Regions from separate parts of the Homo sapiens genome. Here region 1 is linked to region 2. Evidence: fine-mapped expression QTL. A gene starts in region 2. The other region holds a variant in brackets. All regions are shown on one strand. Distances are from middle to middle.

Evidence for each region.
Region 1: its variant is fine-mapped to the expression of PAM16 in whole blood (TOPMed, PIP above 0.99).

The regions. Positions count from the first base shown.
Region 1 is chr16:4,325,000-4,330,366 of GRCh38, reverse strand. All of the region lies in intron 1 of GLIS2 (GLIS family zinc finger 2), which reads right to left. GLIS2-AS1 (GLIS2 antisense RNA 1) reads left to right here and starts at 2,027. Exons shown (of 4, transcript NR_110901.1): 1 at 2,027-2,107; 2 at 3,873-3,937; 3 at 5,013-5,097. RefSeq lists enhancers at 799-1,799, 4,833-5,367. The variant T/C (reference allele first, on the strand shown) is at 2,190.
Region 2 is chr16:4,348,703-4,354,069 of GRCh38, reverse strand. It overlaps PAM16 (presequence translocase associated motor 16), which reads left to right and starts at 2,749. Exons shown (of 5, transcript NM_016069.11): 1 at 2,749-2,838. The coding sequence starts at 2,836. All of the region lies in intron 27 of CORO7-PAM16 (CORO7-PAM16 readthrough), which reads left to right.

The DNA.
Region 1 (5,367 bases), 24 kb after region 2:
GAGATGGTATTCTTTTAGTATCACTTCCCATGCTGTAATTTTCATCATTTTTCTTAGAATTTCTCACTGGTTTAATTTTCATTTTCTTTTTGGAAATGGAGTCTCTCAGTCACCCAGGCTGGAGTGCAGTGGTGTGATCTGGGCTCACTGCAACCTCTGCCTCCCGAGTTCAAGCGATTGTCCTGCCTCAGCCTCCCAAGTAGCTGGGATTACAGGTGTACACCATCACACCCAGCTAATTTTTCTATTTTTAGTAGCGACAGCGTTTCACCATGTTGGCCAGGCTGGTCTCAAACTCCTGACCTCAGGTGATCTGCCCACCTCGGCCTCCCAAAGTGCTGTGATTACAGGTGTGAGCCACCTCGCCCCACCTGGTGTAATTTTCCTCACATGCAAATGATCTAACAGTATCCACCGACCCAAGAACAAGGTCAACACTTCATTCTAAACCCAAACTTCACATTCAGAGCAGCAATCTTTTCCTACGCGGTTAAACACGACATTTCCTTGCGTTTGTTCATTGGGATTATTACAACTTGAAAATCTAACTGCCGCACAATCACGCTGTGAGATCCCGTCTTTCGCGGTATTGGGGTCTTTACTCAATACCAAAGGGCGGCCATGGTGGACATAACTACTACATGGTGAAATACTTTGGATATGCCCCCGTGTGTTTCCCTGGGGGCTAGCATAGCCTGTGAGTGGGGAGAGATGCTGTCCACAGGGCAGGACAGGAAGGCAGCTCCCACGTCCTCCCCTTCTGCCCTGACTCTCCAAGCAAGTAGGGCATAAAATGGTCCCCCCTTCACTGGAGATCCTCTGCTTCTAGGGACACATCCCCAGACCCCACCCCAACATGGCTGACACGGGGGTCTCAGCACAGGGGGGCTGCCCACCTCTCCCAAGGCTGCATCATCAGAGCCAGGGCAGCTGCACTAGGCCGTGGGACCTAGGTCTGCGATTCGCCCCTGTTGGAGCTGTCAGATTGTTTGAATTTGCCTCCCAGGCCATGCATGGGCCAGGGGCTCCCAGAGATGCGGTGGGGTAGGGACCACACCCCCGCTAGCAGGTGGGTGGGTGACAGTGATGGATGGACCAGGGTCCCCTCCACTGTTTCTCTGGCTGGACAGGGAGTTGCCCTCTGCCTGAACCCCTGCCAGTTCCATCTGTCTATCTGTGTGTCTATCGTCCTGCTACCTGTTTATTTTTAGACACAGGCGCAATCCAGCCTCCCCGAAGCTCCTCTGTGCTGGAAGCCTGGACGGGGAGGAAGGAAGTAAATATTTATGCTGATGAAGAATTCAGGAGCCAGGAAGGGCTGGTGGCCTGGTCCCTTGGCTGGCCTGGGGCCACAGGCCTCCCCACAGCCTCTGTCCTCACCCCCACCCCCACCCTTCCGGAGAAGGGGACCACAAGGGCAGGATGGTTTGGGAACTGGGAATTCCAGCTGACGGGGACACTCACTGGCAGCGCTGCCCAAGCAACATCCTTTGGCACCTGCCCCACTGCCTTCCCAGGACAGATGGGGACTCGGGGAGCCAGGGGCCCTGAGTCACCTTGTTCTTAGGGCCTGCAGGGGACACTTCCCCAGGAGGAGCCTGTCTCCCCAGGTGGGGCCAGCCACACGGCCCAAAGCCAGAGGGAGGACTCCAATGCACCCCCTTCATCAGCAGGTCCAGTCCCCAGGGGCACCCCCACACACTTCCTGCCACTGGGTCCTGCCAGGGAGGCAGGGGTTCATTCCAATGCAGGCCAGAGCCCGGCACACGGCCTGCGTCCCTGCCCCCGGGAAAGGAAGGAGCTGCCCCCAGCCCTACACCTCCCAGCATCCCTGTTCCAGGCCCTCCCCACCCAGAGTTTTTCCTCCAATGGAGGCCCCACCCCAGAGGGGAGACGGTCAGTGACCCTGCTTCAGTTCTGACCTTGGCCAGGCTTAAAGCCTCCCCTTCCACCCCCGCCCCGACCGGCAGCAGCCAGTTCTGGGCTCTGCTCTGTGCTTTTGTTCCCGGCTGGGTGAAGGGGGCAGGCGAGAGCTAGGTTCCTGCTCTCCTGAAAGCCTCGGAGGCCCAGAGCGGGGAGCAGCGGGCCTGCAACCAGGGAACCCTGAGTGAGTGCCCATGAGCGGGTGGCCGTGGCTCTCCCCAGCGTAAGGCCGACAGCCTGGCTCTGGACAAGCTCAGCCAGAGGCC[T/C]GGGTGCTAATTACTGCGGGGTCCCGAGGGCAGGAGCCGGCTCTCGGTCAGGTGGGGGCACCCCGTGGATGCTCCCCGGGCGCAGCGCAAGGCCCGCCGGCCCCACGCCCCTCTGCGCCTCCTGGTGGAGCCTTCCGTTCCTCAGTTTCCCCCCGGTGGGACAGCGCAGCGTGGAGGGTGCACAGAGCCCAGGGCCGCGTCTCTCGAGCACTCAGCCTGGGATGCGCCCAGGGCAGCGCCCCCACACGCAAGGGCCCAGGGGTTGGGGCGAGGGCTGGGGTTGTCGGTGGGGGGTGGGGGTGGCCGCGGAACCGGCCGCTGCGCGGCTCCTCCAGCTGCAAAAGGAACTAATTAGAGCGGGGCGAGCGGGAGGAAGCGGCTGCGGCGAGGGAGGAAGCGCGCGGGGGCGGCCGCGGGGACCACCGGGACGGCGGGGGCTTCGGGGGACCGGGCCCTGCCCTTCCCACCCACCGCAGGGCGGGGGTCACCCGGAGGGTGGGCTGGGCGGGCCCCCCGCCACCCTGGCCGAGACAATGGCTGCTATTGTGTGCCCGACCGCAGCCCGAGCAGACGGCCCCCAGCTGCAGCGCTGGCGGAGCCACCCGGCCCCCCGCCCGCAGTCCCCGGCCAGGCCAGGTAGCCAAGGATCCCGCCCTGGCAGGCGGGGCCGGCCACTGTCCCCACCCTCCCTACTGGAAGGCACGGGGCGACCCAGCACACTCAGGGAAACTAAGGCCCGGAAAAGACAGTCTCTTCCAGGGCCCCTTGGCCTGGGGTGGGTCATACACCAGAGGGGGTAAAGGACCATTAGGTACTGACCACGTGTCAGGCCCATCTGTCCATGGATTCAATGACCCCTCTACAACCCTGCCTGGCAGTAGCTGCTGTCATTTTCCCGATCTCACAGATGGGGAAACTGAGGCTTGAGATCACTAGGCTAATAGGGAGCTGGTTGGAGTCCTGCTCTGAATAAAGCTCCTTCTAGGCCAGGCGCGGTGGCTGACGCCTGTAAGCCCAGCACATTGGGAGGCCGAGGCAGGAGAATCCCTTGAGTGCAGGAGTTCTACACCAGCCTGGGCAACATGGAAAAATCCCGTTTGAAGTAAAAAAATCAGCCGGTGGCCGGGCACGGTGGCTCATGCCTGTAATCCCAGCACTTTGGGAGGCCGAGGGCGGACCACCTGAGGTCAGGAGTTCCAGACCAGCCTGGCCAACATGGCGAAACGCTCTCTCTACTAAAAATACGAAAATTAGCCGGGCGTGGTGGCAGGTGTCTGTAATTCCAGCTACCCGGGAGGCTGAGGCAGGAGAATCGCTTGAACCAGGGAGGCAGAAGTTGCAGTGAGCTGAGATCGCGCCACTGCACTCCAGCCTGGGCGACGGAGTGAGACTCCATCTCGGAAAAAAAAAAAAAAAAAAAAATAGCTGGGCGTGGAAGCAGGGACCTGTGGTCCCAGCTACTCGGGAGGCTGAGGTGGGAGGATCGCCTGAGCCTGGGGAGTTTGAGGCTGCAGTAAGCCGAGATCACACCACTGCACTCCGGCCTGTCTCAAAAAACAACAAAAAAAGCTCCTCCTTTCCTGCTTGGGGGAGGGTGGCTGGCAGGCCCTAAGCCTGTGGAGGTGCAGGGTGCACTGGGGGGCTGTGTGCACCCACCCTGAGAACCACTTGGTCTCTTTGCAGAAGGAAGCGGGTCCTCTGTAAGATGGGGCTGCATCCCTGCCCCGCTCCCAGCAGCATGGGGTCAGGTGAGTGACCAGCGTGGCAGTGTTGTCAAGGGCAATGTGAGGAACACCCCTTGCCTTGGAGTGTCCTGCGAGTGCGCTTTTGGTCAGCAGTGGCCATTTAGCTGAGAACTTGGAGACAAGGCCTCAAGATGCATCTCTCAGAAGTCTATGTGGTCACCTTTGTTTTTTTTGTTTGTTTCTTTTTTGAGATGGAGTCTCACTCTGTCACCCAGGCTGGAGTGCAGTGGCACGATCTCAGCTCACTGCAAGCTCCGCCTCCCAGGTTCACAGCATTCTCCTGCCTCAGCCTCCTGAGTTGCTGGGACTACAGGCGCCCACCACCACACCCGGCTAATTTTTTTGTGTGTATTTTTTTAGTAGAGATAGGGTTTCACCGTGTTAGCCAGGATGGTCTCGATATCCTGACCTCGTGATCCGCCCACCTCGGCCTCCCAAAGTGCTGGGATTACAGGCGTGAGCCACCAAGTCTGGCCTTTTTTTTTTTTTTTTTTTTTTTTTTTAAGACACAGAGTCTTGCTCTGTCTCCCAGGCTGGACTGCAGTGGCGTGGTCATGGCTAACTGCCGCCGAGGCTCAAGAGATCCTCCTGCCTCAGCCTGCAGAGCAGCTAGGACCACAGGTGCACCACCACCACACCCAGCTCATTTTTAAATTTTTTATTTTGCAGAGATGGGGGGGTCTCCCTGTGTCATCCAGGCTGGTCTCGATCTCCTGGACTCAAGCCATCCTCCTGTCTCTGCCTCCCAAAGTGCTAGGATTACAGGCAGGAGCCACCACGCCCAGCCCGTCATCTTCTAATTTAACAGAAAGAGGAAGTGAGTCCCTGGTCACTCCTGAACCAGTCAGAGAAACCCTGGTCTGTGGGTGTCCCTGAGTCTATTACTGGAACCATCACTTCAGCAGTATGGTCTTACAGATGGGGAAACTGAGGGCTGAAGGGGGAGGCATCCAGCCCAGGCTGCACAAGTAGGTGGCAAACCCACAACCAGAAGCCACGGGCAAGCAGCATGAGGACAGTACCCATAGCCAGGTGCGGGTACTGTGAAGGCAGGTGCTGTTTCATCCCCATTTTACAGATGCAAAAACTGAGGCTCAGGGGAGTGAAGTGACCCATCCAAGGTCCCACAGCTTGTCCGTGGCAGAGCTGGGTTTCAACCCCAGGTAAGTCCAGAAGCCATGTTCACTATTGGCCCTTCCTATGTCAGGGGCTCAGGCTTGGTACCCCCTCCCCGCCCAGGGACTTGTGGGGCTAGGAGGGATAGCAGAGCAGGCAGTGGGTGGGCGCTGGAGGGGCTGGCTGGGGTGGGGGGCCCACCAGGAGGCTTGGAGAGCCGAGGGCAGATCTGCTGCCAAAGCAAACGGCCCCACAGCCCCAGATTCCTGGGAACCAGCTGCGGCTCCCTGCTCTGGCCAAGAGCTCCACCCTCCTTG
Region 2 (5,367 bases):
TGTAATCCAAGCTACTTGGGAAGCTGAGGGAGGAGAATTGCTTGAACCCAGGAGTCAGAGGTTGCAGTGAGTCAAGATCCTGCCATTGCACTCCAGCCTGGGTGACAGAGCAAGACTCAGTCTCAAAAAACAAACAAACAAACAAAAAAACCTGTGGGACAGGAAGCAACTGGGATGCAGCGAGGCAGGGAATTCAGGGCCTGAGAAGGTGACTTTCAGCTAAGAGCCAAGACTTGAAGGCTGATGAGGAGCCAGCCAGGGAGAGAGCCACTTCCGAGGCAAGGAAGTACAATGTGGGCACAGAGAGAGGAATGTGGAGGCCAGGAGGAAGAGGAAGAAGGGCAGCGGTGTAGAGTAGGATTCCAGGTGGCCCAACTTTCATCCCACCATTTGCCGAATGCTGTGCGCCAGATGCTCTTCCAGGCGCTTGACATCTAACAGCAGAGAAGAGAGAGGAAATGCTTGCCCAAAAGGAACTCCCATTCTAGTGGAAGGAAACAGATTCTCAACAATAAACATAAAAATAAAGGGAGGCCAAGGTGGGAGGATTGCTTGAACCCAGGAGTTTGAGGTCAGACTGGGCAACATAGGGGAACCCTTGTCTCTACAAAGAATACAAACATTAGCTGGGCGCGGTGGCTCACGCCTGTAATCCGAGCACTTCGGGAGGCCAAGGCAGGCGGATCACGAGGTCAGGAGCACGAGACCATCCTGGCTAACACGGTGAAACCCCGTCTTTACTAAAAATACAAAAAATTAGCCGGACATGGTGGCCCATGCCTGTAGTCCCAGCTACTCAGGAGGCTGAGGCAAGAGAATCTCTTGAACCCAGGAAGCAGAGGTTGCAGTGAGCCGAGGTCATGCCACTGCACTCCAGGCTGGGCAACAGGGAGACGCTCTCAAAAAGACAAAAAACAAACATTAACCACATGTGTTGGCACATGCCTGTGGTCCCAGCTACTCAGAAAGCTGAGGTGAAAGTATCACTCAAGGCTGGAAGGTCAAGACTGCAGTGAGCCATGATCATGCTACTGTACTGCAGCCTGGGCAACAGAGTGAGACCCTATCTTGAAAAAAAAAAATTTTTTTTTGGCTGGGCACGGTGGCTTACACCTGTAATCCCAGCACTTTCGGAGGCTGAAGTGGGAGGATCACTTGAACCCAGGAGGTGGAGATCGCAGTGAGCCAAGATTGGGCCACTGCTCTCCAGCCTGGGTGACAGAGCAAGACTTCATCTCAAAAAAAAAAAAAAAAGGAAAAATAATTTAAAAATAAAAAACCGGTTGGGCACAGTGTCACATGCCTATAATCCCAGCACTTTGGGAGGCTGTGGCGGGTGGATCATTTGAGACCAGTAGTTCAAGACCAGCCTGGCCAACATGGTGAAACCCTGTCTCTACTAAAAATTCAAAAATTAATGGGGCATGGTGGTCCATGCCTGTAATCCCAGCTACTCAGGAGGCTAAAGCATGAGCATCGCCTGAACCTGGGAGGTGGAGGTTGCAGTGAGGCAGGATTGTGCCACTGGACTCCAGCCTGGGCGACAGGGTGAGACCCTGTCTCAAAATGATAAATAAAATAAATAAGTAAATTATGTGGTATGGTAGAGGGTGATCAGAGTCTTGGAAGAAAAATAGAGACAAGAAGGGAGGATAAGCCAGTCACAAAAGGCTGCACATTGTATGATTCAATTTCTTCTTTTTTTTCATTTTTCATTTTTACCTTTTTTTTTTTTTTTTTTTTTTTTGAGGCAGGGCCTGACTCTGTCACCCAGGCTGGAGTGCAGTGATCACAGCTCACTGCAGCCTGTACCTCCCGGGCTCAAGAGATCCACCACTCAGCCTCCCAAGTAGCTGGGATTACAGGCACCTGCCACCACACCCGGCTAATTTTTGTATTTGTAGAGATGGGGTTTCACCATGTTGCCCAGCCTGGCCTTGAGTTCCTGACCTCAAGCGATCCACCTCGGCCTCCCAAAGTTTTGAGATTGCAGGCATGAGCCACCACGCCTGGCTTGTATGATTCCATTTCTATGAAATGTCCGGAACCTGTGAATCCATAGAGAGAAAAATGAGTGGTTGACAGGGGCTGGGGGAGGGGGCTGGGGAGTGACTAATGGGTGATGAAAACGTTCTGGAACTAATAGTGGTGACAGTGGCACAGCTCTGTGAATAAAAGGCATTGGACTGTGCACTTGAAAATCATGAAATCTACAGTGTATGGATTATATCTCAATAAAGCTGTTACTTTTTTCATTCATGGAGGGCAAGTCACGGCGTTTTAAGGGGTCCAGGTGGGCCTCATTGAGGTGACATTTGAGCAAAGATTTGAAGAAGGGAACGAGCTTCTCAGGCAGGAGGAATGTGGATGAAACCTATTTTGAAGTTTTCTATTTTCTAAAGTATTTTTGAGAATTTAGCATCCTACTCCATATTATGTTCATTGATTTCATATAATGTTGCATTCCCAAATATTTTGGCAAAATCAAGGGCAGAAATCGCCCCACGTCTGACCGATGTGCTTAGCTGCTCCAGCGCACTGGGGTAAGCACGCGGGCAATTGAGACTCCCGGTAACGCCCCTTGCCCTCCCAAGCCCGCCCCCAGTTATCCAGAGCCCGACGCAGGCTCAGTCAAACCCCGCCTCCGACCCCGCCCCGAGCCGCTAAGACGCTCCCGGTGGCCCGCCCTTAGACTGAGGCAATGCGCATGCCCAGCGCCGTATCGCGCACGCGCTCTCTGCGGCTTTCCTTGACCTCTGACCCGCCGACCACGCTTGATCCCCGGCCGCGGGGCCAGGAAGTCGGAGTTTGAGCCCCGGAGGCAGAGCGGCTGCCATGGTGAGCCCCGAGTCGGGCGCTACCGGGGAGGGGAAGCCGAGTCGGGCCGGGGGCCGGGGGCCGGGCGGCGAGCTCCGGGCTGGGCGGCGGGCGCCGTGCGCCCCCTGCGTGCCCGGCGGGAAGCATGGTCTGGGGGCGTTGCACCCGGGGGAATCGAGGCCGGCAGCGGCGGCACCGGCGGCCTCAGGGCCAGGGAAAACCGTCTGCCTGGAAGAGGCCGGGCAAACGTGGTCGCGCTGTGCCTAGCCCGCGTGTGAGCGAGCAGCCGTGGGCAGCGGTGGAGCATGAGTCTGGCTGGTGAGCGCCTCCCCTGCCCTGGAACCTTACAGCGCTGCAGAGTCGATGTTGCTGCCCTGTTGTTATCCCCAGTGGAAAGCTGGCCTTTCCAGGGAAGTGGCTGACCTGGGACTTGAACTAGGCCCCGAGACACCGAGCACGGAGCGTTTGTGTGATATCGTTGGCACGTAGAGCCAGTCAACAGACCTGCGCCACACTGTCAGGTCACCTAGGGTAGCTTTAAAAGTGCAGGTTTGGCTGGGCGCGGTGGCTCACGCCTGTAATCCCAGCACTCTGGGAGGCCGAGGCGGCGGATCACGAGGTCAGGAGTTCGAGACCAGCCTGGCCAACATGATGAAACCCGGTCTCCACCAAAAAATTTAAAAAATTAGCCGGGTGGGGTGGTGCGCGCCTGTAGTCCAAGCTACCCGGGAGGCTGAGGCAGGACAGACGCTTGAACCCGCGAGACAGAGGTTGCAATGAGCCGAGATCCGCCAGTGCACTCTAGCCTGGGCGACAGGGTGAGACTGCGTCTCAAAAAAAAAATTATATATATGTATTATATATACCGTATACATTTATGTATACTACATATTATTATGTTATATATATTTTTATATATCATGTATTTTATATATATATATACACACACACACACATAATATATACATATGTTAGCCAGGCATGGTGGCACACACCTGTAATCCCAGCTGCTTGGGAAGTTGAGGCGCCAGTATCGCTTGAACCCAGGAGGCAGAGGCTGCAGTGAACCAAGATTGTGCCACTGCACTCCAGTCTGGGCGACAGGGCAAAACTCTCTCAAAAAGAAAAAGAGGGGGAAAAAAAAAGTTCAGGTTCTTGAGCTCTATCCCTGGAGGTTCTGCACACGTAAGTTCCCCAAGTGACTCTGTTGCAGCTGGTTCGGGGAGCCACTTCTTAACTAACATAGTAATAAGGATAATGTAACAGCTAACGGCGTACAAGTGCCAGCCCCTGAGCTAAGGCTTTATGTAGAGTCTCTCATTTAGTGTTTATGAAGTCCTGCTGTCATTGTCCTTATTTTACAGATAAGGAACCTGAGCCCCAGACAGTTTTGACTCCACCATAGTCATGCATCCCATGGTGTCAGAGACCTCTTTTGAGCCCAGCTCTGTCCCAAAACTCATGGGGTTTTTTTGGTTTGTTTTTTGAGATAGGATGTCTGTCTGTCGCCCCGGCTAGGATGCAGTGGAGCGATCCTAGCTCACTGCAGCCTTGAACTCCTAGGCTCAAGCCATCCTCCTACCTTAGACCCCCAAGTAGTTGGGCCTACAGGTGAGTGCCAGCACACCTGGCTAATTTTTAAATTTTATGTAGAGGTGGGGTCTTGCTGTGTTGCCCCAGATGGGTCTCCTAGGCTGGAGTACAGTGGTACGATCACAGCTCACTGCAGCCTCAACCTCCTGGGGCTTAGGTGATCCTCCCATTTCATCCTCCCCAGTAGCCTCAGCCTCCCGGGTAGTTGGGACAACAGGCATGCTCCACTATGCCCAGCTAATTTTTTGTATTTTTTGTAGAGATGCAGTTTCGCCATGTTGCCAGGCTGGTCTCAAACTTCTGGGCCCAAGCAGTCCTCCTGCCTCGGACTCCCAAAGTGCTGGGATTATAGGCGTGAGCCACCGCACCCAGCATGACAGTATATTAACAGGAAAAGAAAGTGCTGGCCGGGCACGGTGGCTCACACCTGTAATCCCAGCACTTTGGGGGTCTCAGGCGGGTGGATCACGAGGTCAGGAGATCAAGACCATCCTGGCTAACATGGTGAAACCCCGTCTCTACTAAAAATACAAAAAATTAGCCGGGTGTGGTGGCAGGCACCTGTAGTCCCAGCTACTCAGGAGGCTGAGGCAGGAGAATGGCTTGAACCCGGGAGGCCGAGCTTGCAGTGAGCCGAAGGTCGCGCTACTGCACTCCGGCCTGGGTGACAGAGCAAGACTCCGTCTCAAAAAAAAAAAAAAAAAAAGAAAGTGCTAGGCCGGGTACGGTGGCTCACGCCTGTAATCCCAGCACTTTGGGTGGATTACCTGAGCTCAGGGGTTCGAGACCAGCCTGGGCAACACGGTGAAACCCTCTCTGTACTAAAAATACAAAAAATTAGCCGGGCATGGCAGCGTGTGCCTGTAGTCCCAGCTACTCAGGAGGCTGAGGCAGAAGAATTTCTTGAACCCGGGAGGCAGAGGCTGCAGTGAGCCGAGATCGCACTACTGCACTCCG